Regions from separate parts of the Homo sapiens genome. Here all the other regions are linked to region 3. Evidence: fine-mapped expression QTL. A gene starts in region 3. Each other region holds a variant in brackets. All regions are shown on one strand. Distances are between the middles of the regions.

Evidence for each region. PIP is the estimated chance that this variant, and not a neighbour inherited with it, causes the effect. A credible set is the group of variants that fine-mapping cannot tell apart.
Region 1: its variant is the best candidate, but not a certain one, in a credible set for the expression of LINC00930 in whole blood (TOPMed, PIP 0.82).
Region 2: its variant is the best candidate, but not a certain one, in a credible set for the expression of LINC00930 in esophagus muscle (GTEx, PIP 0.73).
Region 4: its variant is the best candidate, but not a certain one, in a credible set for the expression of LINC00930 in sun-exposed skin (GTEx, PIP 0.66).

What each region holds. Positions count from the first base shown.
Region 1 is chr15:92,776,644-92,784,591 of GRCh38, forward strand. LOC101926994 (a long non-coding RNA gene) reads right to left here. Exons shown (of 3, transcript XR_001751667.3): 3 at 3,423-3,583. Among named protein-coding and RNA genes, the nearest start is that of CHASERR, 100 kb to the right of the region's middle. The variant G/A (reference allele first, on the strand shown) is at 4,173.
Region 2 is chr15:92,661,843-92,669,790 of GRCh38, forward strand. No RefSeq gene overlaps it. Among named protein-coding and RNA genes, the nearest start is that of FAM174B, 10 kb to the left of the region's middle. RefSeq lists enhancers at 1,508-1,627, 2,008-2,057, 2,545-3,044. The variant T/G (reference allele first, on the strand shown) is at 3,535.
Region 3 is chr15:92,568,439-92,576,386 of GRCh38, forward strand. It overlaps LINC00930 (long intergenic non-protein coding RNA 930), which reads right to left and starts at 3,825. Exons shown (of 4, transcript NR_021493.1): 1 at 2,748-3,825; 2 at 2,120-2,258; 3 at 1,765-1,835.
Region 4 is chr15:93,008,529-93,016,476 of GRCh38, forward strand. It overlaps CHD2 (chromodomain helicase DNA binding protein 2), which reads left to right. Exons shown (of 39, transcript NM_001271.4): 35 at 617-795; 36 at 3,817-3,916; 37 at 6,168-6,381. Among named protein-coding and RNA genes, the nearest start is that of RGMA, 77 kb to the right of the region's middle. The variant G/A (reference allele first, on the strand shown) is at 4,684.

The DNA.
Region 1 (7,948 bases), 210 kb after region 3:
CTGAAGTCAGGAGTTTGAGAACAGCCTGGCCAACATGGCAAAACCCCTCTCTACTAAAAATGCAAAAATTAGCCAGGCATGGTGGCACATGCCTGTAGTCCCAGCTACTTGGGAGGCTGAGGCAGGAGAATCACTTGAACCTGGGAGGCAGAGGTTACAGTGAGCTGAGGTTGCACCACTGCACTCCAGGCTGGGAGACACAGCAAGGCTCCATCTCAAAATATATATATATATATATTGAGGAAGCTATGGATTGATATAAGATCATTTCAAAATACATTAAGATAAAAAAGCAATGTGCAGAACAATGTATATAATATATTATTCTTTTGGACAAGTGAGGTGGCGCACACCTGTAATCCCAGAACTTTGGGAGGCCAAGGCGGGCAGATCACCTGAGGCCAGGAGTTTGAGACCAGCTTGGCCAACACGGTGAAACCCCGTCTCTACTAAAAATACAAAAATTACCTGGATGTGGTGGCGCATGCCTGTAGTCCCAGCTACTCAGGAGGCTGAGGCAGGAGAGTCACTTGAACCTGGGAGGTGGAGGTTGCGTGAGCGGAGATCACACCACTGCACTCCAGCCTGGGCAACAGAGCAAGACTCTGTCTCAAAAAAGTAAATAAATAAAAATAAAAATAGGCCGGGCACAGTGGCTCACGCCTGCAGTCCCAGCACTTTGGGAGGCCAAGGCGGGCGGATCACGAAGTCAGGAGATCGAGACTATCCCGACCAACATGGTGAAACCCTATCTCTACTAACAATACAAAAATTAGCCTGGTGTGGTGGTGCATGCTGGTAATCCCAGCTACTCAGGAGGCTGAGGCACAAGAATCGCTTGACCCCAGGAGCTGAGATCATGCCACTGCAGTCCAGCCTAGCAACAGAGTAAATAAATAAATAAATAAATATAATAATAATATATTATTATATGTAATATAATAATATATTATTATATATTATATTATATGTAATATATTATATTATATATTATATTATATGTGATATATTATATTATATATTATATTATATGTGATATATTATATTATTATATATTATATGTGATATATTATATTATTATATATTATATTATATGTGATATATTATATTATTATATATTATATTATATGATATATTATATTATTATATATTATATTATATGTGATATATTATATTATTATATATTATATTATATGTGATATATATTATTATATATTATATGTAATATATTATATTATATGTAATATATTATATTATATTATATGTAATATATTATGTTATATTATATGTAATATATATAATATATATTTTATCATATATTTTATCATATAGTATATTTTATCATATATTTTATCATATTTCATCATATAACATATTTTATTATATATAATGTCATAATATATTTTATTATATATGTCATAATATATTTTATTACATATAATGTCACAATATATTTTATTACATATAATGTCACAATATATTTTATTACATATAATGTCACAATATATTTTATTACATATAATGTCACAATATATTTTATTATATATAATGTCACAATATATTTTATTATATATAATGTCACAATATATTTTATTATATATAATGTCATAATATATTTTATTATATATAATGTCAATATATTTTATTATATATAATGTCACAATATATTTTATTATATATAATGTCATAAGATATTATATATAATGTCATATTTTATTATATATGTCATAATATATTTTATTATATATAATGTCATAATATATTATTCTTCCATGTATATGTTGTTTTACGCAAAAAGCAGAGGAAAAATATATTTTGTATTGATTTGTATAGGCACAAAAATACCTTTGGGGCAAGATAGGAAGTGGGCATATGTGCGGTAGGGTAAGGATGGAGAAAAGAACTTCCCCATATACCTTTGGCTTTTTTTTTTTTTTGAGACAGAGTCTCACTCTGTCACCCAGGCTGGAGTGCAGTCGCATGATCATGGCTCACTGCAGCCTCGAACTGCTGGGCTCCAGTGATCCTCCCACCTCAGCCTCCCCAGGTGCTGGCACTACAGACATGTGCCACTACACCCTTGCAATTTTTTTTTTCACAGTGAAAGATTTTACTTTATTTTTTTTTACTTTCATCCAAACATACCCTTTTCTGAAAAACATAAAAGCATGCACATCAATGGCATCCCTGTAAAGAAAAAATAATAATTAAGCTGTAAATCAATAATAATAATACAAACTTTTAAATGATATGTGAAAAGATTTACAGGTAGTCATAGGGCTCTTAATTTTAGAAAATAATAATTCAAGTGAATATCAATACAGGTTAGGGAGAAGCTTTTTTTTTTTTTTTTTTTTAGATGGTGTCTCTCTCTTGTTGCCCAGGCTAGAGTGCAATGGTGCAATGGCACGATCTCGGCTCACTGCAACCTCTGCTTCCCAAGTTCAAGTGATCCTCCTGCCTCAGCCTCCTGAGTAGCTGAGATTACAGGCATGCACCACCACACCCCGCTAATTTTGTATTTTTGGTAGAGATGAGGTTTCTCCATGTTGGTCAGGCTGGTCTCAAACTCCCGACTTCAAGTGATCTGCCTGCCTTGGCCTCCCAAAGTGCTGGGATTACAGGTGTGAGCCACCGCTCCCAGCCTGCAAACATTTTGATACAAAATACTTTTCAGCAATAATATTTTATAGACCTTTTGTGAGAAGAATATTAGTATAGTCCTAAGAAATACAATATTCAAGTCTTTTTTTTTTTTTTTTTGAGATGGAGTTTCACTCCTGTTGCCCATGCTGGAGTGCAATTGTGTGATCTCGGCTCACCACAACCTCCGCATCCTGGGTTCAGGTGATTCTCCTGTCTCAGCCTCCCGAGTAGCTGGGATTACAGACATGCACCACCACGCTTGGCTAATTTTTTATATTTTTAGTAGAGATGGGGTTTCTCCATGTTGGTCGGGCTGGTCTCAAACTCCCAACCTCAGGTGATCTGCCCGCCTCAGCCTCCCAAAGTGCTGGGATTACAGGCATGAGCCACCACGCCTGGCCTCAAGTTATCTTACGCAGGTCAGGTACTGGTTACGCACGTCCGTGTAAAGAGACCACCAAACAGGCTTTGTGTGAGCAATAAAGCCTTTTAATCATCTGGGTGCAGGCCGACTGAGTCCAAAAAAGGAGTCAGCAAAGGGAGATGGGGTGGGCCAGTTTTATAGGATTTGGGTAGGTAGTGGAAAATTACAGTTAAAGGGGGTTTTTCTCTTGTGGGCAGGGGCAGGGGTCACCAGGTGCTTGGTGGGGAGCTCCTGAGACTCAGTCCAGGAGAAGGAATGTCACGAGGTCAGTTGTTCAGTTAGGGTGGAGCAGGAACAAATCACAAGGGTGGAATGTCATCAGTTAAGGCAGGAACTGCCTATTTTGCTTCTTTTGTGGTTCTTCAGTTGCTTCAGGTCATCTGGATGTATACATGCAGGTCACAGGGGTTATGATGGCTTAGCTTGGGCTTAGAGGCCTGACAGTGCCCTTGTTAAAATGAGTTAGAACCTACATAATCCCAGTAGCATTGCCTCTTTAAATGTACAGCATATCTATGATATTCAAAATAAACACAGACATGGGATTGATCTAAATTTTACTTTACAGGTAAAAGAAAATTACAATTCAGCATGAGAACATTCTTCATAAGTTTTACCTATGGCCCCAATGATAATTAGGCCAACTGTATCCTGAGTGTATATGAATGTGTGAATACATACACATACTAATGTATACAAACCAATTCACACAACACGACTCTCCAGAGATGTTGCTTGAAGCACCAGAGAGTAATTTCTTTATTTTTAGTTTTGAAGAGACAGGGTCTCACTAGGTTGCCCAGGCTGGTCTTGAACTCCTGGCCTCAAGTGATCCTTCTGCCTCAGCCTCCCAAAGTGCTGGGTTTACAGGTGGGAGCCACTACACCTGGCCGCCTTTTGTATTTTTTAAAGCTTGAAGCACATATGTGTATTACTTATTAAAAATTTAACAAAGAATTTTAAAAAGAGAAAGAAAGGCCTTTTAGAGGATAGGTCATTTTAGGACTCCCTGGTTCCAAGATATAACTCAATTGTCCTGTAATGAGATAGATACTTCCTGAATCTATTGGGGTTTAAGATTAAAAAAAAAAAAAAAAAAGAC[G/A]TTCTCTTATTCAGACCCATTTATATAGTTCTCATTGCCTTTTCTCATTATGCTCCTGAGGCTCATTTGAAGCTAACACTCAAGCACCAGTGACATCTGGTAACATGGGTAACCCTGGGCAACCAGCTTCTCTCATAGTTGTCATAGCAACAATGATGTTCTGACAGCTGAGTTTTCATCGTGAAGTAATTATCAAGCTTTGGGGAGGGCTCCTCCATGTTTGCAGTTGTTTACGTCAATGAGGTTTATGAATGAACCTCAATTAGATGCAATTTTGATTGAAGTGTTAAGAGAGGCTGTGAATTGAGTCAGATTTACATATCCTTCCACCCAGCCTGGCAAATCTGGTGAATTGTAGGCCTGGTGCAATTCAGAGAGGGGGTGTGACTTGCACTTCAGCCATCAAAAGCCACTGGATATGCGAGGCTTGGTGGCTCATGCTTGTAATCCCAGCACTTTGGGAGGCTGAAGTGATCACCTGAGGTCGGGGGTTCGAGACCAGCCTGGCCAACATGGCGAAACTCCGTCTCTACTAAAAACACAAAAAAAGGCCAGGCACAGTGGCTCACACCTGTAATCCCAGCACTTTGGGAGGCCGAGGTGGGCGGATCACCTAAGCTCAGGAGTTCGAGACCAGCCTGACCAACATGGTGAAACCCTGTCTCTACTAAAAATACAAAAATTAGCAGGCATGGTGGCACACGCCTGTAGTCCTAGCTACAGGGGAGGCTGAGGCAGGAGAATCCCTTGAACCCAGGAGGCAGAGGTTGCAGTGAGCTGAGGTCACGCTACTGCACTCCAGCCTGGGCAACAGAGTGAGACTCCATTTCAAAAAAAAAAAAAAAATTAGCTGGCTGTGGTGGACATGCCTGTAATCCAAGCTACTCGGGAAGTTGAGGAATGAGAATCTCTTGAACCTGGGAGGCGGAGGCTGCAGTGAGCCGAGACTGCACCACTTCACTCCAGCCTGGGCAACAGAGCAATACTCTGTCTCAAAAATAAATAAATAAAAATGTTTTTTTAAAAAGCCACTGGAAGGCTGAAGACCTGGCACGTTCCAACCTGAGATGAACAGTTTCTTCTCTATCCTCTGTTCCCCCACCCAACCACAAGTAGCAGGAACAGACCCAGCAGGTCCTTGATTTCAACCCAGCATATAAAACAAAAGTTCTGATTTGTCAAAACTTTGTAAAACCCATATGTCTATATAATTAGCCCCATTTCACACTGGCGAAACCTCGGGTTTAGACTGCTCAGACTCTTTCCGCTGGACAGCAGTGAAGTCAGGACTCACAGCCACATCTCAGCTTCTTCCACTTCTGCCACCTGCTCAGAGCCAGGAATAAATATTTCTTTGGGTTATCTGGAAAGTGACACTGAGCCTTTCTTACGTCCACAAGCCTTTGTTAAAAGAACAAGTGCTTCTGCATCTATCAGCCAAAGTCAGTAGAAGTGGCTTGGTTCTGGCAGCCAAGAACCCAGCTTGTTGGTGACAAGCTCCTGGTGACACATATGAACTCTTAACCTCTGATTTGAGTGAGGAATTGTAACCAAGTGCCCCTCATTTTTCTAAGAGATAGTTTGTTTCTCTCCCTTCTTTTCTCATTCCCCTGGTTCCCCACTTCCCACTTAGTCCCTTAGAAATGCAAATATAGGCCAGGTGCGGTGGCTCACGCCTGTAATACCAGCACTTTGGGAGGCCGAGGCAGGTGGATCACCTGAGGTCAGGAGTTCGAGACCAGCCTGACAAAAATGGTGAAACCCTGTCTCTACTAAAAATACAAAAAATTAGCCAGGTGTGGTGGCGCATACCTGTAATCCCAGCTACTCAGGAGGCTGAGGAAGGAGAATCACTTGAACTCGGGAGGCGGACAGTGCGGTGAGCCGAGATTGCACCATTGCACTCTAGCCTGGGCATGAAGTGTGAAACTCCCTCTCAAAAAAAAAAAAAAAAATGTCCGGGCGCGGTGGCTCACGCCTGTAATCCCAGCACTTTGGGAGGTCGAGGCGGGCGGATCACGAGGTCAGGAGATTGAGACCATCCTGGCTAACACGGTGAAACCCCATCTCTACTAAAAATACAAAAAATTAGCCGGGCCTGGTGGCGGGCTCCTGTAGTCCCAGCTACTTGGGAGGCTGAGGCAGGAGAATGGCGTGAACCCAGGAGGCAAAGCTTGCAGTGAGCCGAGATCACGCCACTGCACTCCAGCCTGGGCGACAGAGCGAGACTCCTCCGTCTCAAAAAAAAAAAGAAAAAAAAGAAAAGAAAAGAAAGTTAACAGTAGCTTCAAACAATAGCCAAGGAAGTTAGAGTCACAAGGTGTTGGTTCCCTACGTAACAACTTAACATATGTCCCTGAGTTTTTCAGAACTCCCACCAAATGGATCCGCTGGCACGTAGACCTCAGCTAAGGGGCAAACTGAGGACTGCACTTTGACTACCATTCTTTGTCCTGAAGTTCTTCCTGAGAGGCCTGGAGGAAGTCACACCCACAAGGCAGTGCTCACATCTTCTGCTGCTGACCCCAGCTTTTTAAAGAAAGCTTCTCCTCCTCAACCAACTACAAATCAGAAAATCTTTGAATCTACCTAGGACCTCTAAGCACCACCCTCTAACCCTGCTTCGAGATATTCCATCTTCTAAGGCCAAACCAATGTATAATCTCCATGTATTCATTTACAATTTTGCCTGTAACTTCTCCTTTCCTGAAATTTTCCCCTGCTTTTAAAAACCTTTGCTTACAAGCCATCAGGAAGTTTGGATCTTAAGCATGAGCTGCCTGATTCTCCTTGCTTGGTGCCCTGCAATAAATGATTCACTTTCATTTGCTGCAATCCCAATATCACTGTTTCGCTTTGCTGCATACACACACACACACACACACACAAACCACAAAGAACGAAAGAAAAAACAGTGTAAAAAAATGTAAAATTTTTTTAAGAGAAAATCTAGCGTGTATATATTTTATATAATATTTTTGTTTAACTATATATACAGACATATATATGTTACATGTGTGTATTACATATATACATATGTTATATGTGTGTGTTACATATATACATATGTTATATGTGTGTTACATATATACATATATATGTTATATGTGTGTGTTACATATATACATATATATGTTATATGTGTGTATTATACATATTTTGGGGGCAAGGGGGTCTCGCTCTGTTGCCCAGGCTGAAGTACAGGGGTGCAATCATGGCTCACTGCAGCCTCAACCTCCCTGGCTCACTTAATCCTACTGCCTTAGCCTCCCAAGTATCTGGGACTACAGGCACACACCACTGCACCCAGCTAATTTTTGTTTATTTTTTTTTTGGTAGAGACGGGGTCTCACTATGTTTCCCAGATTGGTCTCAACTCCTGGCTCAAGCAATCCTCCTGCCTCTGCCTCCCGAAGGCTGGGATTACAGGGGTAAGCCACTATACTCGGCTGCAAATATATATATATTTTTGAGACAGAGTCTCGCTCTGTCTCCCGGGCTGGAGTGCAGTGGTGCGATCTCAGCTCACTGCAGCCTCTACCTCCTGGGTTCAAGTGATTCTCCTGCCTCAGCCTCCTGAGTAGCTGGGACTACAGGCTTGCACCACGACGCCCGACTAATTTTTGTATTTTTAGTAGAGACAGGGTTTCACCATGTTGGCCAGGATCGTCTCGATCTCTTGATCTCATGATCCGCCCGCCTCGGCGTCCCAAAGTGCTGGGATTACAGGCGCGAGCCACCGCACCCAGCAAGCTGCCAATATTTTTTAATTAAAG
Region 2 (7,948 bases), 93 kb after region 3:
ATTCATATATGCACAATAAATACAAGTCATTTAATTCCAGTACACCACTAACTGTGTGATCTTGTTTAAACCTTATGCCTCAGTTTCCTCATCTGTAAAATAGGGCTAATAAGAGAACCTATCTCATGAGAGTATTTCAAGGACCAAATAAGTTAATACTTGGAACATGCTTAGCAAAATATCTAAACAATGGTTAAGTGCTCAGCAAATGTTAATTATTAATAAAATATCAGAGCAATGAAGAAGGATCACTGAAATGGCATTTAACTATAAATCACTTTTCCAGCCTTCAAGGTTCACCAATATCTGAGGGAGGGAGTTTCTGATGCCCTGGCTGGGACACCTCCAGGAGACAACAGCTATGGAGCAAAACCAGATCCCTGAGTTAATAATGCCTAAACCACCTTGGAATTCAGAGCAGGAACACCCTTTGGACACCTCTCACCTATTTGCTGTTTTATACATATGTAGCCCAGAGGAAATAGGTCTCAGTGAAGTAACCTAACTGTTTGGAAGACAGACATTCTCCATTCTCTGTGACTAGCAGCTGACTTAAAACAGAAGGACACAAGAAAATATATTGGAAGAAAATATACCAACATGGTTCGGTTTGGTTTGGTTTGGTTTGAGATGGAGTCTCTCACTGTCGCCCAGGCTGGAGTGCAGTGGCCGATTGTGGCTCATTGCTACCTCCACCTCCCAGGTTCAAGCCATCCTCGTGCCTCAGCCTCCCAGGTAGCTGAGATTACAGGCACGCACCACCACACTTGGCTAATTTTTTGTATTTTTAGTACAGACGGGCTTTCACCATGTTGGCCAGGCTGGTCTTGAATTTCTAGGCTCAAGTGATCCGCCCACTTAGGCCTCCCAAAGTGCTGGGATTACAGGCATGAGCCACAGTGCCCAGCCCCGGAAATATAACAACATGTTAATAGCAATTATCGCTAGATGTGTGATCATGGGGCATTTGTGTTGTCTTTACTGCATCAGACTTTACTGCAACAGACTCTAGGCTCTGTAATAAATATGTACTAATTTGGCAGTTTTCTTACATGCAGTACATATATTAATCTTAACTATTTTATTTCCTAAAATGAATATGACATGACTCACCTTTGTTTTTAACATACCCTCAGGCAAAGGGCTTACAAAGATGACCAGAGATCAAACTCTGGAGCATGCGTAAGGAGAATGTGAGAGGCAGACTCTCAGTTCCCGCTGCACCCCATACTGCTGACACAGTGTAGGGAAAATAATTTTTAAGGGTAGACTGAAGAGGGGTAAGGAAATTCCAGATAACAACGTCCACCATGCATTGAGCTTTGCAGGCATAATCACACATACCTTTCAACCCTATGGGAAATAGGCATTAGCATCTCTATTTTACAGAGGGGGAAACAGAGGCTTGTCAATTTAGGGACCTGAGAGAGGCACATGTGCATGGGCAGTGGAAGAAAGGTCTGGCCTGGTAAGGAAATCCCCTTCAGCCCTTGGAGAGTTATTTCTGTTCCAATTTGGAGAAGCTGCTGACTACACATCTACCTGAGGGGGACCCACAGCAAAGGAGTGGAGGGGAAGTCCAAGACGACTCAGCCAGAAACCCAGCGAGCAACCCCACGGAGTGTTCCAGCCCATCTTTCATTTCTTCCTAGACGTCACTAGCACTCGTCATCTGGAAGGTTTCTTCCCACAGCAACAGATACGTTTTGTGCCCCTGTTACGGGCTGGACACTTTCGGGAAAGGAATAAATATATTGCATGTGGCCTTTAGCCTTAAGCACAGCCATTCTGATTTGCAGACAAGACATGTTGACTGTTGAGCTAATCACTAGTAAATAAAATTTCCAGACCCAAGAGAAAAGGATGAGAAGGAGTAGAGGATCCGTCCTGAGTATATTCCACAATCATTGCTAGAGACGTTCAGATGCAAGAACTCATGTTGGCTGCATGCCCACTGTGTGCCACACTCACCTCACATGTGTCTCATTAGTCCTCACAGCAACCCTCTGTACCCCATCATAGCCTCCCCGGTTGACATGCAAGGAAATGAAGACCTGCGGGGTCCTACAGTGTCTGGGGCCAGACCAGCACCAGGGCACAGACCCCGAGCTCAGTCTTTCCAACTCCTAAGCGAGACTGGGGTTGTCTCCAAAGACAGTGAGGCATTGCTCCATTAGAAATACCCCGTCTCGCTCCACGGTGCTGGGAATATCAGAGAGTACGTTTGGAAAAGTAGAGCTGAGTAGTGGGAGAACCCTCTGCAACCCCAGTGAAACCTCCTGCGTGCAGGCCGCAAGCACTCGTGTAAAACGCAGGCCCCAAATACTAGTAAATGTCATGATCAAATCCACTTCTCAGACAGACTCCTTTACACACAGTTGTTATCATCCACATAATAAAAGGAATTGGATTTCCCTCGTTTGTCTTAAGTCTTTGCACAATTTCCTCCCACCTTTCCTGGGCCTGCTGGGAGGCTCCGCACAACCCCACTGGGTGGAAGGCAGAGTAGGCAGGGGAACCCTGGGCCTGGCAGTTTTGTTACAATACTGTGTCACAACACAGACAGGTGGGGTGGCCAGAGTCAGGCAGAGCGACACAGGGTGTGTCAGGTGGCTCTCTTGTCCCTGCCTGTGCACACACATGATGGAACCCTGGTACAGTAACACAGCATTCAGTTGAGACCGAGGAAAAATAAACGAGGGACAATTCATCCTAACCTAACTCAGGACAGCGGCCAACCCTCTGGTTTTGCCTGGGTCTGAGAGATTTCCAAGGATGCAGGACTGTGTTTTTAAAAGCAGGTTAGTCCCAGACAAACCAGGAAGAGCCGGTCAGCTCAGCTGACCTCTCTACCCTCAGGTAATGCAGCCCCTTGCCTTTATATTCTCCAGTCCTTCCTCAGCCCACTCGCTCACCCCGCCCCTCTGTGTCTCTGAGCAGCCAGGCAAGCTTGAATACTAGCTAATATTTATTGAGCATTTACTTAGCGTCAGGCGCTTTACATCAGGCCTAAGGAGAAAATACGGTTATCACCTCCTGTCACAGATGAAGAAACTGAGGCTGGCAGAATTAGTGTATACAAATAATTCCATAAAACCAGCTTCTGCGCACACTTGAGCTTATAAAAGGTCTCCATACTTTGCCTTCCCAAGTTTGCCAGAGAGAGGGAGACAGAAAAAGAGAGAGAGAGAAAATGAGTGATGAGTGAGAGAGAGAATGAGAATTAAAGGTCTCTCCCTCCATCCTGGAGGGGGACAGGCTGCATCTCAGACATCAGGCCCTCTCAAGGGATCAGAGGATCAAGCCCATCCTCCGCTTGCTCTCTGCACCTCGCCTGTGGAGCTGACACAGCACCAGCTGCAGCTCATTTTACTCCCCGCCAGAAACGAGGGTGTTATCATGTGATATTTTTGCCTCTTTTTATAAATAATTCATCCTTTTTTGCACAAAAGTAAGATAGCCTGAAGCTAGAACATTTAAAAGGAACGTCAGCCCCTTATACATAAACAATAAAGTGCTAGTTTGCCAGAAAGT[T/G]TGCGAAAGTCCCGAAGCTAAAATACACCTCGTTCTAGGTCTATTTTTAGCCTGGAAAAGGCTTTCCGATGTCTTTCTCAGTTCACACGTGATAAGGGCTGTGTTATGCTTTCTCTGAAATGGGGCTTTCCCAAATCAGTTACATTTGCACAGGGAAATCTAAAAGATAACTTGCCAAATAAGCATACTTATGAAATCCAAATCCCAAGTACACAAATGCTTTTTTTAACTCCACAAAAATAAATTATAAACAAATTGATAATGGAGTCTACGGTCAACCACGGCTATGAGAAATGGGGCCACAGATTGTTAACGTTTACAGGAGTCTTTTTCCCAAGACTGAGAGGGAGTTTTCCTTTGCAGAAGGATAGCAATTCTGGAGCTGGAAATTACAATCGTAAGAACAATTATGGGAAAAACAATTATGTTTGATGATAAGATTTGGGCCTCCATGTTATTGTGGGCTCCCTTATCCCCTTGATGTCATGCATTAGTTTGGTTTTTTGTTTGTTTGTTTGTATTTGGGACGGAGTCTTGCTCTGTCACCCAGGCTGGAGTGCAGTGGTGTGATCTCGGCTCACTGCAGCCTCCGCCTCCCGGGTTCAAGCGATTCTCCTGCCTCAGCCTCCCAAGTAGCTGGGACTACAGGCACCCGCAACCACGCCCGACTAATTGTTGTATTTTTAGTAAAGACGGGGTTTCACCATGTTGGCCAGGCTAGTCTCAAACTCCTGACCTCAGGTGATCCACTCGCCTCAGCCTCCTGAAGTGCTAGGATTACAGGCATGAGCCACCATGCCCAGCCTCATGCATTAGTGTTTTATGAGAAAGACATTTTATTTCTTTACCTAAAAGGATTTTTTTTAATACTAACATTGCTGTTGTCAAAATATCTTCAGAAGGACACATGACAGACTCATAATGTTGGTTGCCTATGGCAGAGGGTGACCAACCATCCCAGTCTGCTGGGGTTTCAGGAGTCTCCTGGGATGAGGACATTTCAGAGCTAAAACAGAAAGTCCTAGACAAAGCAGGACCAGTTGGTCACCCTACCTAGGCAGGGGAACTCTGGATGGCTGGAACAGGGGCAGGAAAGGGAATAGTAACTGTATCCCTTCATGCATTTGGAATGTTGAACTATGTAAACTTATTGCTGGTTAAAAAAAAATAGGTTAAAAATGTTCTGTCAGTATCATATGAGAGGACTCTTTTTAAATCAGTAGATCACTAAGCGTAGCAAAGAAAAGGTTACTGGACCTATGCAAAATTTATATCAATACATTTAAGGTCTGCTTTATTATTTCATTTGTTTCTGAAATATGTCCTCCAAAAGACTTCACAATTATTCACCAAAAAAACTCAAAAATTTGCAGTTCTTTAATCCTCATTCTCACAACACCAGGCCACTGAGGCTCACACTGTTGTTCCATTTTGAAGATTAGGAAATGGAGACCTAATGAGGTTATCTGACTTGCCCCAGGGTTGGAAATGAGCGTGCCATGCAGCCCGTGTCCCCAGGGCCGCCCTCTCCCGTGCTGGCCTACTTTACAGCTGGCTAGTATCGTCAAACCATGGAAACAGCGAGCTGTTGCCAAAGAGAAATATTTCTATGAAAGTTTCTGAAGTGTCCCCTAGGAGAGCCTGCAGACGTCAGTGACGACATAATATTGCTGACAGAGCCCTCCCCACCAATCGTGCTGCTCAGAGAGTGCCACCCATGGAGCAACTTTTTAGGAGATTCCCACAGGATGGAAAGTCCTGAGGTGCATACGTGGAGGGACCCCACCTTTGAGCTCAGGTGGACCATCTGTCCACAGTTCCTTTCACAGTGCAGTACTTTTCCCATACACATCAAAGTTGCTTTGGATCGAGAGGCGAAGACCAGCAGGGCAGAGCTAAGCAGGCCACAGACATCTTTCCCCAGAAAAGCTGAGGGTGAGAGGCAGGGCGGTTCACCCTCCGGATGGCTGTTTGTAAAGTAAATATTGATTTTGAGCCATCCCCCAACCTGCTCAGGAAAACACACCAGCTGTTGCTTCTGCCTGCAGCTCCAAGTGGCAGTCACTCCCATGTCCAGAAACATCCTCTCCATACCTGTCCCCACTGCAATTCCCACAGCTGGCATCGTCAGCCTCTCCGTGACAGTGGAGTTAGACCTCACGTTTGCAGGAATTTGTGTTTTAATTCCCAGGCAGAGCTCGGGCCTCTGAGGGTTAGGGACACAGAAAAGGTCAGTTTGGGGATGGCCCCGGGTGGATGGCTGTTTCTCCTGTTCCCCACAGTGTGGAGCCCAAACCTTCACCCCTGTGTTGATGCATCCTAGACCCACTTTGGACATTTCCACCTCACAAGTAACGTTGGCAGCCACTTCCCGAGAGGCGCTGCTCTGCGTTCCTGACCATTTTTTTCTCACTCCTCTCCAGCCTCAGGGATACACCCTCCTGTTTGAGACCAGCCCCCACACGTTGGCCCTGAGTTCAACCCTCCTCCACCTCCTCTGAGGCTCTGCTTCACGCATTACCTCTGCTTCCTCCTGTATCTTCACCCTCCAGTAGATATTTCCCATTCTGGTTTCTCACTGAGAAAGAAAAGAAAAGAGAAACCAAGAGGGAGAGAGGGAGAGAGAAAGAGAGAGAGAGGGGAAGAGGAGAGGGGAAGGAAGGAAGGAAGGAAGGAAGGGAGGGAGGGAGGGAGGGAGGGAGGGGGAACGGGAGGGGGAATGGGAGGGAGGGAGGGGGAGCGGGAGGGGAGAGCCTACAACTTTGTGTGTCTCCCTTTTGCCCTCCCTGAACCTCTAAGTGGCATTTGATGATGCCAGGGCTTCCTGCCTTGGAGGTCTCCAGTTTTCTATCTTCCCTCTGACCTCTCTGTCCCCTCTCTCGGGAGCTGGCTCCTCTCCCTTTTAACTCAGTCCCCAGGGCTTCCTGCTGAGTTCTTTTCTCACTCTGGCCCCTCTCCCTGGGTTCTCAGGTACCCAGCATGTCCCACACAAGATTCTTCATCGTTCCCCAAAACCTGCCCTACCTCCAGAGCTCCTACGCTCTGCTGGCCACCACACTGCACTTGGCGGAGGCAGGAACCTAGGGGTCCCCCTACAATCCCCCCATTACTAAGTCCTTCCTCTTCTCTCCAGAAACAGTCCAAATCCAACCACGAGTAAGTTAGTGTAACTTGTTTGTTTATACGTCTCTCAAAACACACACACACACACACACACACGTAATGTCCATCAAATCAGGAGTTGTGTCTGTTTTGTTCATTGGCTATTTCTTCATCAACCAGAAATGTATCTGGCACACAGTAAGTGCTCAATAAATGTTGCTGGACTGAATGGATAAGTACCTACTGCCGTAGTTTATAGCAAGCAACAGGAGTTGAGTGCACGTATTTAAAGTCAGAAGGCAAGAGCTGGAATCTTGGCTTTGCCATTTACTCTCAGTGTAACTTGCACTAAATTAAACCTTAAGTCTCAATTTCCTCACCTGTAATATGGGCATAAAGATAGCAGCTCACTTATCATTAGGATTAAATGAGATAGCACATGTAGAGAACTTAGCATAATAACTGGTACGTATTAAGTCATCAATAAACATTACATATTATGTTTCTTATTGTTGTTCTTTCCTGTCCTCATGTGTCACCTGTATTATAACATCCTTCCAACCGTTCTCCAAGACTCCAGGCTCCTCTCTTCAGGAGAATTCCCACCCTAACATCGTAATCAGAGTGATCTGTCCAAATGCAAAATCAAGCATAATACTCCCTTGCTGAAAACCCTTATGGGGTTTAAACTCTGCCAGTAGAGTCCTAATTCCTTAGTATGGGCCCAGCTTCCCCACCCCCACCTCCCAGCACCCCAAACTCTAAATTCACTAAACTCCTAGCTTCATCTACCCTTACCTCCCAGCACCCCAAACTCTAAATTCACTAAACTCCTAGCTTCATCTACCCTTACCTCCCAGCACCCCAAACTCTAAATTCACTAAACTCCTAGCTTCATCTAACCCTTACCTCCCAGCACCCCAAACTCTTAACTTTACTAAACTCCTTCCATCCGAGCCTTTGCCTAAACTGCTCCCTGGTTCTTCCACCAGGAATGCTCTTCCTTAACCCTCTCCTCTCCATTTTTTGCTTAAAGAACTCCTCCTAATCATTCTACAAACAAGACATAAGCTCCTTTGTGAAGATTTTGCTAATCTCTTCTGCACAATCCCCCACCACCCCATACAAATTCACCCCTGCCCACACACATTCCTCTAGGACAGTTAAGGTGGACCAGCTGTCCCAGTCCAGGCAGGAATGAAGAAGTTGCCCAGAATGTGAGACTTTCAGTGCTAAAACTAGGAGAGTCCGGGGCAAACAAGGGCAACTCTAATAGCACAGATCACATTGTTTTGGAGTTAGCTGTCTTTCT
Region 3 (7,948 bases):
TAACATCTTTCCAGAATCGTCTGTCCCAAAACAGAAACCATCTTGTTTCCTAGGCATGCTATCAGAACGAGAAAATAACTAAATTTTTCTTCAAAAAATAATTGCAAAATCCACATTGATGTAATACATTTTTAAGAAGTGAAGTAAGAGATAAAAATAGCTAATATTTGAGGCCAACCACTGTTCAGTATATTGTACATCTATTAACTCATTCAATCTTCACAATAACCTGATGAGGAAGACAGTATTTCTATCCCCATTTTGCATATGAGGGAAGTAAGGGACAGAAGAGCTAAGGAGCTTGCCCAAGTCACACTTAAGAGGCAAAATAGAGACCCCCTCACCCCAGAAGCAGGCCTCCATGGTCTACGCCCTTAAACATTGACATCTCCTGCCCTTCACACATACCTCTGTTAATCAAAAGAATAGGTCCAACAATGACGACTTCACTTCCTAAGTGAGTCCATAGGTTTAAGGTAGTAACAGGCTACATTATAGACCTTAACAAATCATATTCAAATTCTTCTAGAGTAATAGTCAATTCGATATATCATATAACTTTAAAATAATGATGGGCCAGGCATGGTGGCTCGCGCCTGTAGTCCCAGCACTTTGGGAGCCCAAGGCGGGAGGAGCCCTTAAGCCCAGGAGTTTGAGACCAGCTCTGGCAACGTAGTGAAACCATCTCTTTACTTTTTTTTTTTTAATTAGCCAAGCATAGAGGCCCATGCCTAGCTACTCGGGAGGCTGAAGCAGGAGAATCACTTGAGCCCAGGAGTTTGAGGCTGCAGTGAGTTATGATCACACCACTGCACTCCAGCCTGGGCGACAGAGCCAGACCTTGTCTCCAGAAAAAAAAAAAAAAAGATGTCACACCACATTTTCAAACACAAACACATTACCTAGCAGTCATTATCAAAAGCCTGTGCTAACTGGATTAAAATCAGAAACCTAACTGGTGGTTTAGGACAGAAACCTAGAAACTGTGCTATGGACTGAATGTTTGTGCCTTCCCAGAATTCATACACTGAAGCTTAGTCTCTAATGTTATGGTATTAGGATGTGGGGCCTTTGGGAGGTGATTAGGTCGCGAAGGTAGAGCCCTCATGAATGGGATTAGTGCCATTTTATAAGGGATCCCAGAGAGCTCCCTCACCCTTTCCCCATTATGTGAGGATACAAGAAGTTAGCAGTCTGCAAACTGTGAGAGCCCTCACCAGAACCCGATCATGCAGGCACCCTGATCTCAGACTCACAGCCTCTAGAACTAGGAGAAAGAAATTTCTGTTGATTTTAAGCTACCTGATCTATGGTATTTGTTGTAGCAGCTTCAGTTGACTAAGACAAATGGATTCAATTTTGTCTTAAGTTCTTGGTTTCCGGTAAACCAGAAGTAACTTGATAATGCAGTGCTGACTGCTGGGATTTTTCAGCCAGGTCCTCTCCAGCTCCCAGAAATGCTGGACTGACTATGTATTTTTAGGGACTCTCCTTGCTCCAGAGCCTGAAGTACTTTCTATTTTCGTGGTCTAGTCTTCATTCCTCTCACAATAACACAGAGAGGTCGCCAGGGTCTCTCTAAGAAGCACAAACCTGGCCTAGTACAGATGAGCTCATCAGTCACTCAGGGGCCTCTTCTTCCCCAGACTCCCCAGGAATCATAAGCTTCTAGGATGGGCTCCCCAGAGCACTTCCCTTCTTATTTACCAGGAAGAAGGTCTTAGAGGCTGCTTCCCCATTCTTCTTTCAGGCCAAAAGCCTTACCTCTTGCCTCTGCTTCCATTTCTGCTAGGTTCTCTTATTCCATTCTGTACATGTCAGAAGCCGTCAGGAGCCTCAAGAGAAGAAGAAAGAGCCATGGTGAGTCGTTTTACATTTTCCAAATGAACAATGAATTCCTAAAAGAAAACCTCAACTTGCAGCCTTCCTGCCCCCAGGAACTCCTAGCAGAAGAGCCCAGGTCCCAACAAAATGCATGGCAGCTGCTGCCCAGCCTCTGAGAGAATTAAGAGGCATTAGAGCCCCACGTGGCCGCAGAACAACATCTTATCCAGCCATTCAACAGCCAGCAGGCTCCCCTTTTCATGATGCCCTTTCCGCTGTGCCCTAGGGGGCTCACCTCTTGCAGCCTTGACAGTGCAGTTCTTGCCAGGTCCCAGCAGGAACGAACTGGAAACCTCCTGGGTTTCCAGCAGCTGCTGTGCTTCTGAACTGACTCTTCCTTGGGGGTGGCAGGCGCACTGCCTCCTTGTCTACCGCTGTGGGTTTAGACAAAGTGCATTAGGCTTCTCTTCTCCCCCGGGCCAGCAGGGTTTTAGCCCTACCCACTTAGGGGTCATTTCCACAAAATAAATATCCCCCCGGCTGATAAATCCCCCCATTCTTCCTTGATACGGGGTCTCTCCGGAAACACAACAGCCTAGGTTTCTTCCTCTTTCCCACCCAACCTGCTCACTCACTTCCATCTCACACTGCCACCCCCACCCCCAGCACAGCCACCAGAACCACCAGTCCTCAGCTTCAACTGAGCCCCTGGGCTACTTCAGCATGTTCTCCTCACATCTGTACTCACATATATCTTCCTACAAGTTCCCTCGCCCTTTCACGGGCTGAAGCTCTGACTCTCTCAGAGAACATTAGCTATTGGTCAGGAATATTGTGCAAAAGACTTCACTTAATTGGAAAAGTATTCATTCTTGGTGGTCCCCAATGCCCCCAGGCCCTCAGCCATAGGATGTGGCTCTCACCTGGACAGTAGACACCTTGCTTCAATTTTCACTCTTCGCCCCTGGAAACCGTCGGCTGTTGGGGGTGAAAGGAAACTCCATAGTACTATACTGAGGTGACGTTTCCACCACCAACCATCTGCTTGGGCCCCTCTTAATTCTCCACCGGAGACTGGGGCTGCCTTCCTCAGGGATCCCAGCTATCTCTCAACACCTCGTCTTCCTCCAAGACTGGAGTCTTCGTGGAGTTCTGAGGAATTCACTTTCCAAGCAAGAAGGTTTTGGGTCCTCATGTCATCTTCCTCCAAGACTGGAGTCTTTGTGGAGTTTTGAGGAATTCACTTTCCAAGCAAGAAGGTTTTGGGTCCTCATGTCATCTTTCTCCAAGACTGGCATCATCTCGGAATTCTCAGGAATTCACTTTCCAAGCAAGAAGGTTTTGGGTCCTCATGTCATCTTCCTCCAAGACTGGCATCATCTCGGAATTCTGAGGAATTCACTTTCCAAGCAAGAAGGTCTTGGGTCCTTGTGTCTGGGGGACTCAATGCCCCCAGGAATCCTCCCTCCTCATCATGGGTTGCTCGTTGCAAGTGAAAGTCTCGTGCAGTAGGTTCCCTGTGCCTTCTTCTCTGGCCCTGACTTTGACAGGAGACCTCTTCTGGTGCCTTCTGGACCACCTGCTGCCTTACATCTGGGCTCCATACCAGAATCACCAGCATCCACTCAGAGGACACTGGGCAGCTATAACACTTGTTTTTTGCCGGGGCCAGTCCTAGTCCAATAGGGTTTCCAGGCACCCACAACAGCTGCCCAGGCAGCAAATGTCAGTCAGTTGTAAACCAGCCGGGTAAGACTCACACTTTGGCTTCCCTACATGGACTTCGTTTTGGGAGAAATTCCAGGATTTCAGACTCTCAGGGCCCATGGTCACTGAGCTCAATGTCCCCAATAGGTCACACCCTGCAGCTGCACCTCTAAGAGCTTGTGCTTCTGCCAAAACAATAAGCTTCTACTAGATGGGTCAGATCCGTTCTCTGACTTGATGCAATGGCCACTGTCCCTTCAGTCTGGCCCCTCAGCATCTGAGTCAGTGGGAATGTGATGGGCCCCATATGTAGAAGGAAGAACTGAAAGGAAGCACAGGAAGAACAGGAAGGAAGCAAAAGAAGGAAGGAAAGGAAGCCACCAGCTTCCTGCTGAGTCTTGATTAGGGCTCCTGGACAGATATTCTCCTCCTCCTGTTGCAAAAACTGTTGGAATTAACATAAAGCCTCTGAGCCCAAGCTTCCTCAAGTGTACAATGAGGATACTGGAGTCCGGAATCTCTGAGTGCTTCTCTGTGATGGACAGAACAATGCCCCGACAAAGATGCTCATGCCCTCCTCCCCAGAACCTGTGAATATGTCACGGTGCATGGCAAGGGGGGAATTAAAGTTGCCGGTGGAATTTAGGTTGCTAATAGGCTAACCCTAAGATGGGGAGATTAGCCTCGATTATCAGGGTGAGCTTACTGTCATCACAGGGACCCCTATAAGTGAGAGAGGGAGGCAAGAGAAGTAGTGTCAGAATTAGAGACGAATTTGCAGAAGCTGGCTTTTAAGATGGAGGAAGAGGCCATGAGCCGAAGGATGCCGGTGGCCCCTAGAAACAGGAAAAGGCAAGAAAAAGGTTCTCCTCTAGAGCCTCCTGAGGAGCACAGCCTTGCCAACACTTTGAACTTTGCCAGTAGTTTGAACTTCTGTCTTCCAGAACTGTGAGATAATAAATCTGTACTGTTTTAACTCATTTATCTTGTGGTAAACTTGTAACAGCCGCCGTAGGAAGCTAATTCACCCTCATCCCTCACATTCACACCACAATCTCCTTCTTCTCACCGGCATTCCATCTCCTCTGCCTCCCAAGTCACAGAGCCCCAGGTGCCACAATGGCTGTGGAGTCTGCGGTGCAACCTCATTGCAAATATTTGTATGCTCGGAAGAAAAACACGAGTACAATGTCCTATATTTACGAGGACCTTACTACTCTTAAATCGCTGTCGTTCAAAAACAAAACAATTTTTTTCAGCGTGTTCTTATACGCCCATTACTGAGCTGGTCCCTGGGGATGCAAAGACACATGGACCTCATTGTTTTCCTCCAGGAATTCACTTGGAAAAAGAAACACGGGAGATGCTGCCTAGAATCCTTGATGCCTCCGAAGTTAGACTGGAGTTGGATTAACCCGGCCTCTCTCTGTGGAAATAGGAGATGGCTAGAAGAGTGACATCAATCAGCCACAACTGCTTCAGCCTCATAACGTCGGAGCAATGGTATCAGACTTGATGCAGAGACTACCCGGGCATATGTGGCTTTTTTTTTTTTAAATGTAGTGAAAAATTCCAAGTCACAGCCACAACACTGAACTATCAAAAGATCATTTCATGTTTTGGTTTGTATTAAATGCTCTTTGCACTTTGCTTTTGTTAGAGATGGCTAGAAAATTCTAGAAATAAGGAGTGCTAGAGAAGAATCACTGCTTAAGAGCAGGATCTCAAAGAATACATCCTTTGCCCCCTATATCCTCTCCCCTTTCTGATTCTCAAAAAGACACTTCAAACTGATAGATAGTCTTTATGTAGATGAATGGGACAAACTCAAACGTGAGAGTTGATCCTTTTCTTTTTTTTTTTTTTTTTTTTTCTCCAGATCCTGAGGAATTGCCATTAGGACCTGGAAACAAATATGTTGCGTGGAAGACTTACTGACAAAGGAACTTTTACTGAAGTCCTCCTCTAGTGCTGAATAGTGACTGCTGAAATGGCCAGACTGGCAACATATCAGGAGGCAAACTGGCATTCCTATTAGATGGAATGTCCAAGAAACCATACTTTTTTAATGGGGTTGAGGATTGCCTGCTTCTATAAGAAGATAGGTATTTTCTGTATCTAGCCAGGTGAGACCACACATTTAGAGTTATAAGACAGATTGACAAGATCAGAACTACAATTACAAGCTATCCACAAACTGTTGCAGAGGCAGACAATGTTTTCTGGATGCTTTCCTTAGCCTGAGTTTCTGAACCTACTACTATATGAAGGAGTACTGCCAAGACCTAGCCAAAAAACAAAAACAAAAAAGGCCCTGGTGGCTTCAAAGATTTTGACATTGAAAACTTGTCCCAGTACCTGAAACATACAATGTCATGTGTCAGCAAGCTCAGCCTGGAGCCCACACCTTGGCCATCTGCCCAGAATTCTCACCCCAGTTCTCTAAAACTCTACTCTTTCTTCTCGGGTGGACTACTTTTTGATCCCAAAGGGCAATGTTAATGGGGCTTTGATGCAACTGAGACATAGTCCAAAAAAAAAAAAAAAGGATACAGAGTACACAACACAAGAACTCTTAGAGGACACCTACTTCCAGATAGAAGAACTAAGTTCCTCATGTGTCCCCATAGAGATGCAACATTTTAGAAGAGAGTTTGAAGACCCAGCTGCCAATGGTCAATCACTGTCACATCGGAGGAGCTAGCAAAAGACACTACTAACAATTATGGGAATAAAAACTTCCTTGTTACTTTAAAGTTTTCAGATCATCTGTTAAAGCTGATAAGGCCATTGGCATCTATTCTGTTCATTGTACTCTGTCTCCTCTTTTACTTCCCTCCCAGTCCCTATCCTTTGCCAACTATATTGTTTACCAATTGTCTCCCAAGGGGGATGGGAGCAGTGGTTTCCCCCACATATATCTTTACAACTTTTCTTACAGCACCTCTTGGCATCCAGCCTCCAGAATTTGCTTCTCCTGCAGTGATTCTGCTAGTTCACTCTTCCTTGGAAAGACCACTGCCTTTGACTCTCAAAGTGGCAACAAATTTCTCCTTTCCCCCCATTTCATCTCAGCACAGGGCTCTCCATCAGTTTTAGAGGGAGCTGCAGGCATGGAGCAATTCAGCATGCTCACACCAGCAGCAGCATACAAAATCATTGACCATGAAGCCACCTGTTCCGAACACCATTGTCAAAACCAAGGACCCAAAGAAGTATAGCACACAGGCTTGCCCCTGGGTAAAATGGAAATGGAAAATGGAAATGTCACCAGTAGAGGACAGCCACACTACAGACTGAGGAATGGTGCACCGTGTGGGCTAGGGTTGGTCTGTGGAGAGAGGTGAGCCCTTTGACATGGGCTGGCTAGAAACGTCCTCATGAACAAGGAAAGATATATGACACGGGTGTTCGAGAAAAAGAGCGTCTCAGCAATAGACAGAAGGAGGAAGGAGAAAAGAGCATCCACAGCATGTTCAACAACATAGAAGACCTTTCCCAGGGATGGTAGGGAGTGTGTAGGAGAAATGGAGAAATGGAATGTAGAAAAGATCATAGGGGCCAGACTATGGTGAGTCTCCATAAGTTGAGCTAAAGAGATAAGACTTTATTCTGTTGGCAGTGGGGAGTCCTTGAAGGGCTTGAAAGCAGGGGTGGGGTGGTTCCACTACAGGAAGGTTAAAAAAAATGACTCCCACAGGGTCCATGGCATGGACAGGTAGAAAGAGGAGTCCGAAGGCAGAGAGACCGCAATGGGCTGAATGGTTGCCCGAAATAATTCATGTCCACCCAGCACCTCAGAATGTAACCTTATTTGGAAATGGAGTCTCTGCTAATGTTCCCACTTAACATGCGGTCATACCGGATTGGGGTAGACTCTGAATCCAGTGGCTGGTGTCTTCCTAAGAAGAGAAGACATGCAAAGAAGAAAAGAATGGAAGCCTCCTTCATAGGCTCCTCCAGAAGGAACCAACCCTGCTGGCACCTTGATTTCAAACTTATGGCCTCCAGAACTGTGAGAGAATAAATTTTTGTTGTTTTAAGCCACCTAGTTTGTGGTCATCTTTCACAGCAGCCCTAGGGAATGAATGCAGAGGCTAATGAAGAATCCAGCTGGAGTGCAGGATGGGGAAATGTCACCTGGGCCCAAAACTATGCCTTGGATAAAACCGTATTTGAAAATCATAATCAACAGGAAATAATAGCTGGGGGACAAGCAAACTGTAAGAGCAAGGTATGGCTCTAAATTCACAGAGAGTGGACTGGAGCTGCTCATTTCACTCTGGTGCCAGCTCTCTAAGGTGAACGTCAAGGAAGCTTATGTTCCTTGTAGGTGCCCCTGAGGGGTAGGGCTGAAATTTGGATTCCCAAACTTGAGAGTCAGACTGGAAACAATCCAGGGAGACATCTTGCAACC
Region 4 (7,948 bases), 440 kb after region 3:
GCTTCGAATTTCATTTTCTCAGGTCTGTTTTGTCATTTCCCGTGCTGCCAATATTTTGTTGCCATTATCCTCTCTCTTGTTTTCTCTTGTCTTTGTGGGCTTGTCTCTTTTAAGGACAGTCCCTTTACCATTGTTTTAGTGGGATTGGGGAGGCAGAGAAAAGATGCTTGTGTTCTGTTTACCATCTTATCTGGAAGCCTTTCTCTTGCTTTCTTTCAAGCCTGAAGGATTTGCAAATATTATATCCCGTATTTTTAGACAGTTTCTGGTGGGAGAATTTCAGATTAGGTCTGTAATACTGCTGCTCATTAGATCTTCAAAATGGGCTTGTGAGGCATGCCATGCCTCTCTTGCAGATGAGGAAGCAGTATTTAGAGAGGTTAAGTAAGGCGTGAAGGGTTATCACATAACTCTAAGCGATGGTGCTGGCACTGCACTTCAGGGTTTTCTGACTTGAATACTTACACTTACTCCACTGCACTAGCTTTACCCACTCTTCCTCTAGCAATTATATGGCATAGGGGTGGGCTGTGTTTTCATCGAGAGCACAGTAAGCAAAGGACAAGACTTACTTTCTGCAGATTGTTTATGTCTTTACTCTGTTGTCCTGTTGCAGTGTAAGGAGAGGATGAGGCCCGTGAAAAAGGCACTGAAACAGCTCGACAAACCTGACAAGGGGCTCAACGTGCAAGAACAGCTGGAACACACCCGGAACTGCCTGCTGAAAATCGGAGACCGGATAGCCGAGTGCCTTAAAGCCTACTCAGATCAGGAGCACATCAAACTCTGGAGGAGGTAACCACTTTGGCCTCGTCTGCCCAGTTTGATTTGACTGAGTGTGGGAGTGGATTCTGTTTTCTTTTAATAAAAGGTGGCATAGCCACCTAAGAAATCTTTCTCCCAGCACAACTCATCTATTGGCAATATACCTGCAGGCTTTAACTCCCTTTCCATGAAATAGGCCATTCCACTGAGACCAGCCTTTTGAAGGGGTAGGACGATGTCATTAATTTATTTTATGAGAGAAAGATAGTGTTACTGGATTTGCTGGTCTATTCTCAGAAATAAATTTTCTTTAAGCCTACAAGGGGCAAAAATCATCTGGTCTTAACTACTTTACCCATCTCAGGTTGATATCCAGATATTCAGATATTACTGTATCTAATACAACTAATTGGTTGGTTCTGTACCAACACATGGTGACACAAAGATTAAAACCGCAAGAACTATGAGTTCTCTATTCTCATATGCTTTTTTAGTAATTAAAGTAGTAATTTGGATTAAGTTAATCTAGAACTTCAGTGTTTAAGGCATCATGGTTTATAAATGTTCCTTTATATAGCCACTGAAACTTTTTTAAAAGATTTCAATAGTTTTAGGGAAACAGGTGGTGTTTGGTGACATGGATAAGCTCTTTAGTGGTGATTTCCGAGATTTTGGTGCACCCATCACCCGAGCAGTGCACACTGCACCCAGTGTGTCATCTTCTATCCCTCAGCCCCCTTCCCCCCAGAGTCCGTTATATCATTTTTATGCCTTTGCATCCAATGTTTGGTTTTCCATTCCTGAGTTATTTCACTTAGAATAATGGTCTCCAATTCCATTGAGGTTGCTGCAAATGCCATTATTTTATTCCTTTTTATGGCTGAGTAGTATTCCATGGTATGTATGTACCACATTTTCTTTATATACTTGTTGGTTGATGGGCATTTAGGCTGGTTCCATGTTTTTGCAATTGCAGATTATGCTGCTATAAACATGTAAGTGCAAGTGCCTTTTTCATATAATGACTTCTTTTCCCCTGGGTGGATACCCAGTAGTGGGATTGCTGGATATATATCCACTGTCCACTTTGGATATTTTAAGAAAACATGACTGGAAATTTTTTTTTTTTTTTTTTTTTAAATGAGACAGAGTCTGACTCTTTCACTCTATCGCCCAGGCTGAAGTGCAGTGGCACAATCTTGGCACTGCAACCTCCACCTCCCTGGTTCAAGAGATTCTCCTGCTTCAGCCTCCTAAGTAGCTGGGATTACAGGTGCCTGCCATCACGCCTGGCTAATTTTTGTATTTTTAGTAGAGATGGGGTTTCATCATGTTGACCAGGCTGGTCTCGAGCTCCTGACCTTAGGTGATCCGCCCGCCTTGACCTCCCGAAATGCTGGGATTACAGGCATGAGCCACTGCGCCCAGCCATGGCTGGAAATTCTAAAAGGCAATTGTAACATTAAATCTCTTTCCATTAATCACAGTTACTTCGTTTTTATTTTATTTTAGACTCAGAGGGTACATGTGCTTGTTTGTACATAACCACAGTTACTTTGAACTTGTATATAGTTCATGGATAATGTGATTATCTTTGTATAATATGTCCAATCTCAGAGGACTGGTTTTTGAGTGAAAAGTGGATTTAAGAAAACTTCTGCATGATGGTGTCCACAGCATGCTTCACACCTATAAAGAAAAGATTTAATTTTCAAAATGGTACTTTTTTTTCCGCTTAACACTGTTACCAACTTCTTTCTTTACCTAGCGGCATCTGGCCTTTTTTTTTTTTCTTCTTTTTAAATTTAACACTGATTAGAAGATAGCAAAAGGTCATCCCAGTGAACAGACCCATTTTTAAATGTGCCAGGCACTGTGATCTTGGCTAGCAGTAGTTTATAAGGTCCTCGCCCTTTACAAGTCAAAAAAGTAGTACAAGGTAAGCCCTCGGAGAAACTGTTCGTCATGAGGCAGCAAATGCAAGCCCAGATAGAGTGGAAGTGTTGAGAAGGAAGTGCGTGAAGAGTAGTCAGGAAGGAAGGTCTTCTGAGAGGCAGGCAGGTGCACTTGAACTGAGCATACATGAGCTGAGTCGAATTGCTGAGATGAACAGAGTTCTCAGGCTTCAGCAAAGGCTTGAAAGTGGGACAGGGAGGGGACTGGGTGGTGTTCAGGATTTAAAGACAGTTTGCTAAAAAGACTGAAGCTCTTTATAGGAGGCTTTAGACAGGAAGGTAAATGGCTCTTCACCTGATGCAGCAGGCTTACTAGTTAGGGAGCCTGTACAGGTGGTCCTGTCAGCAGCAAGCCATGGTGAAACTACCTGTTAGGAAGTTTGAGAAGATATGAGACTCCTTTATCTGGCTCACTCTGACTACCTGTGCTTACTCTTTCTAAACACCTGTCTCATCATATCATTCCCCTGTTGCGCAGTAACACCATGCTAGGGTGAACATAATGGAATTGGAGGGAAAAAGCCACTGAGAGTTTTAAGGAAGAAATGAAAGGTTGTGGTGGCGACAACTGGGAGGAAGGAGGGGCAGCAACACAGAGATGACCAACTGAATGGAGGCCACAACCTGGGAGATGGTGGTGCTGATGGATTTGTGGTAGAGTCCAGAAAGTGAAGGAAAACTTAAAAGGACTGGAGTCTGGGGTGTCATTGATAGAAATTTGGAGGAGTTCTAGGTATTGATAGAGCCTTAGTCTCTAAATCCCTCTGTCAGACTCTTTTGGCAGAACCATGTAAAGGTGTACGGTAAGTCCTCACATAACGTTGTTTCCTTCAGCTTTGTTTCATTATAACATTGATGAGAAAAAAAATTGATTTTGTTTCCCTTAAAGTTGCAATTTCCAAGAACCTATCGACAACATTAAGTTAGGACTTACTGTATTATTAATGCAAATACCTGAAATAATATTTCTGTAGCTTAATTTCTATGCTTAGGGAGTATACCACAGCAAAATTTAATAGCTTGCCATCCATGAAGATCATAAAAAATTGCTTTTCTAATTCTATAATTCACCAGAACTGTTCATTTTTCTTTTTAGGAACCTATGGATTTTTGTTTCCAAGTTTACAGAATTTGATGCTCGAAAACTGCATAAGTTATACAAGATGGCTCATAAGAAAAGGTCTCAAGAAGAAGAGGTAAAGTACAAATTCAGTCCTAATTCATACAAACAAATACCAATTCCACAGAAAAATCTCTTAATTTTTGTTTTTCCATGGGGAGATGATCACAGAATCATGGGTTATTGCTGGTGCTAATAGTCAAACAATAAGACCAGATGGGTGAAATAGCCAATGTATTGGAGCCTAACATGGTTGAAATTCTGACAAAGAGTGTTTACCCTGTGTTTTTAGGTCCTAAAATCATTTGTTCACCAGGTTTTTTCTTCCATTTGCATTTTTCTTCTGTACATGTCAGTAGCTTATAAATGTGGCTCCTAGGAAGTAATAGGGTGGTGGGCAGAAAATACTTTTTCTCTTCTTTTCTGGACCATCTATTTGGTGTCCTTCCAGCTTTTGTATGGAAGGGGTCCTGCTACTCACTTGTGAGAGGTGCTCAGAAGTTGCCTCTCCTTTGGAATAGGGGGATGGGTGCAGAAGTGACATGGAGGAGGCTGCAGAGGCAGTGCTCCTTGTGTGGGTGTGCCCATTTGCAGATCTGCTGACTTGCCACATGGGCTGTACCCAAGTTGGACATTGAGTTCAATCTGTGAGCATTAAATACCACCTCCACTAATGCGTCAGCTCCATGAAGACAGAGATTTTATGTCTCTCATCTACTGCTGTGTTCTCAGCACATAGAATGGAATAGAATGGTGCTGGGGACAGGGAAGCACTCAGGAGTATTTGTTATGCTGTGCCCAGTGCTGTGTTGGCCTGTGAAGCAGCACCCTCAAGTAGTTGAT[G/A]ATTTAATTTTACATGGAAGAATATGTTATAGCAGTAACATACAGGAATCATATACTAATAAGCATTATAAAAAGTCTATAAATGGATAGTCCGGAAAGGCCCCAGGAGGGAATGAAATAGTTAGGAAAGGCCCTTTAGAAGGGAGTGAAAATTAGGAAGAGGGTCTGAAGTTGGACACATAATCATGAAAGACTTCATTCATTTAGGGATCAGAATGAATAACAAAACAGTATAAGCTGAATAACAAAAACAGTGGTATCCTACTAGTGGGAGTATACATTGTCACAACCTTTCTGGAGGAGAATTCAGCAAGATTTATTAAAAGACTAAAGCATGCAGTTTTGCTTCCAGGAATTTAGTTTTGAGAAGGAGATAGAGATTTAAACATGTTTATAATGGAAATGGCTTGGAAGCCCAACAGTAAGAAATACATTCAATGTGGCTAGGCGCGGTGGCTCGTGCCTGTAATCCCAGCACTTTGGGAGGCTGAGGCGGGTGGATCACTTGAGGCCGAGAGTTCGAGACCAGCCTGGCCAACGTGATGAAGCCTCATCTCTACATAAACTACAAATATTAGCTGGGTGTGGTGGCACATGCCTGTAGCCCCAGCCCCTCAGGAGGCTGAAGTGGGAGGATCGCATGAGACCAGGAGGTGGAGGTAGCAGTGAGCTGAGATGGCATCACTGAATGCCTGCGACAGAGTGAGACTCTGTCTCAAAAAAAAAAAAAAAAAAAAAAAAAAAATACAGAAAACAAAAACATTCAGTAGTTCATGATATATCCATATTGGGGAGTATTAATCAGTTATTAAACATAATATTGTAGAAATAAGTATTTACATGGAAAGATTTTCACAATACATGAAGTGAAAAATGAATACCAAATATTTTTGTTTAAAATATAACTACAAAAAAAAGCTTAGAAAAATACGTGCCAAATTATTAACAGTAATTCCCTTGCTGGTTAGGATTTGGGTCACTTTATTTTTTTTATTGTGTGATTTTTTTTATATCAAACATTTGACTTGTGTGATAAGGAGTAATGTTACTCCAACATTCAGATATTTAGCTTGATGACTTGGGCATAGGAGTTAGTTCCCACTGGACAGTCGAGGGTTGTTTGTTGTGGTTAGCCTTGGAAAGTTGGTAGTCTTGGTTTTACATGGTCCAGGATGATCCTCTGAGAGTGCCGCCAGCCTGGGCGCCTACACCATACCCTGTACAGTGACATCTAGCAGTCTATGCATGTGTTCTTGCAGGTACTTAGCAGTAATGGTCAAACTCAGCATAAATTCCACTGAGTTCCCCCAGCAAATAGCCTAACAGTGGAATTTATGAGCCTTTTTTTTGTTAGGAGGTAGTAAACGCCAGTTCAGAAGTTTAAGAAGGACAAGAAGGAGCTGTTTAGAGGTGATAGCCTTTATTCTTCTCTGGGGAATTAAGCCTGGGATCTTGAGCTTCTTTGGTTTCCTTTTACTCTTTAGGAGCAAAAGAAGAAAGACGACGTGACTGGGGGTAAGAAACCATTTCGTCCAGAGGCCTCAGGCTCCAGCCGGGACTCTCTGATATCTCAGTCCCATACCTCACACAACCTTCACCCTCAGAAGCCTCATTTGCCTGCCTCCCATGGCCCACAGATGCATGGACACCCAAGAGATAACTACAATCACCCCAACAAGAGACACTTCAGTAATGCAGGTAGGTCATTAAGTGGAGTTTTTAAAAGAGGTGCCAAAAGATAAAAAATTCACACAGCCGTTTCATTTTCCAAAGACACTGGCTAGACTTCTGTGCTTTATTATCTTCTAACACTTTATTGTCCTCTCTTTTCTTAATGAGAGAAAGCATGAAATAAAGATCCCCCAATTTTTTTTTTTGTTTGTTTGAGACTGAGTCTTGCTCTGTCACCCAGGCTGGAGTGCAGTGGCACAATCTCGGCTCACTGCAACCTCCACCTCCTGGGTTCAGGCGATTCTCGTCCCTCAGCCTCCCGAGTAGCTGGGATTACAGATGTGCACCACCACGCTGAGCTAATTTTTAAATTTTTAGTAGAGACAGGGTTTTGCCATGTTGGCCAGGCTGGTCTCAAACTCCCGGCGCCATGTGATCTGCCCACCTCAGCCTCCCAAAATGTTGGGATTACAGGTGTGAACCACTGCGTCTGGCCCCCAGGACTATTATTTCAACTTCCGATTAAGAAGAACCCAGCTAACATGAACAAACGAAAAAGACTGAGGGAGAAGTTTACATTCTGTATGACAGTGAAATGGTTAAAACTGCTAATCTTGAAAGAGCTCTTGTAAATTGAGAACAAAACAATAACTGAATAGAAAAATGGGCAATCAACAGAGTGAAGAGACAGTTTATGTAAGGGGAGAAAATATTACCAACCGTACATCTGATAAGGGGATAATATCCAAACTGTGTAAGGAACTCAGCTCCTTATGTAGCAGGAAGGCAAATGCTCGATTAAAAAGTGGGTAAAGGACCTGAATAGACATTTCTCAAAAGAAGACATACAGATTGCCAACAGGTATATGAAAAAATGCTCAGCATGACTGATCATCAGGGAAATGCAAATTAAAAGCACGATGAGATATCACTTCACACTTGTTAGGATGGCTAGTACCAAAAAGTCAAAAGATAAGGGTTGCCAAGGATGTGGAGGAAAGGGAACCCAGCGCATTGTTGCTGGGAATGTAAGTTAGTGCAGCCATTATGGAAAACAATGCAGAGATGCCTCAAAAAAATCACAAACAGAACTACCATATGATGCAGCAGTCCCTTTACCAGGTATATATTCAACGAAAATGAAATCAGTTATGTTGAAGAAATGCCTGCACTTACATATTCATTGCAGCATTATTTACGATAGCCAAGATACGTAATCATCCTAAGTGCCCATCAGCAGGTGAGTGGATAAAGAAAATGTGTATATACACAATCGAATAGTATTCAGCTTTAAAAAGAAGGAAATCCTGTCGTTCGCAACAACATGGTTGAATCTGGAGGGCATTTATGTTAAGTGAAATAAGTGAGGCACAGAAAGAGAAAAACTGCATATTCTCACTTACGTATGGAATCTGAAAAAGTCAAACTCATAGAAGCAGGGAGTAGAACAGTAGTTACCAGGGTCGGAGGGCAGGGGAGAATTGGGAAGATATTAACAACGGAGATAAAATTTCAGTTAGATATGAGGAATAAGTTGAGAAATCTGTTGTACAGCATGGTGACTGTAGTTAATAACAATGTATTATATAAGTGA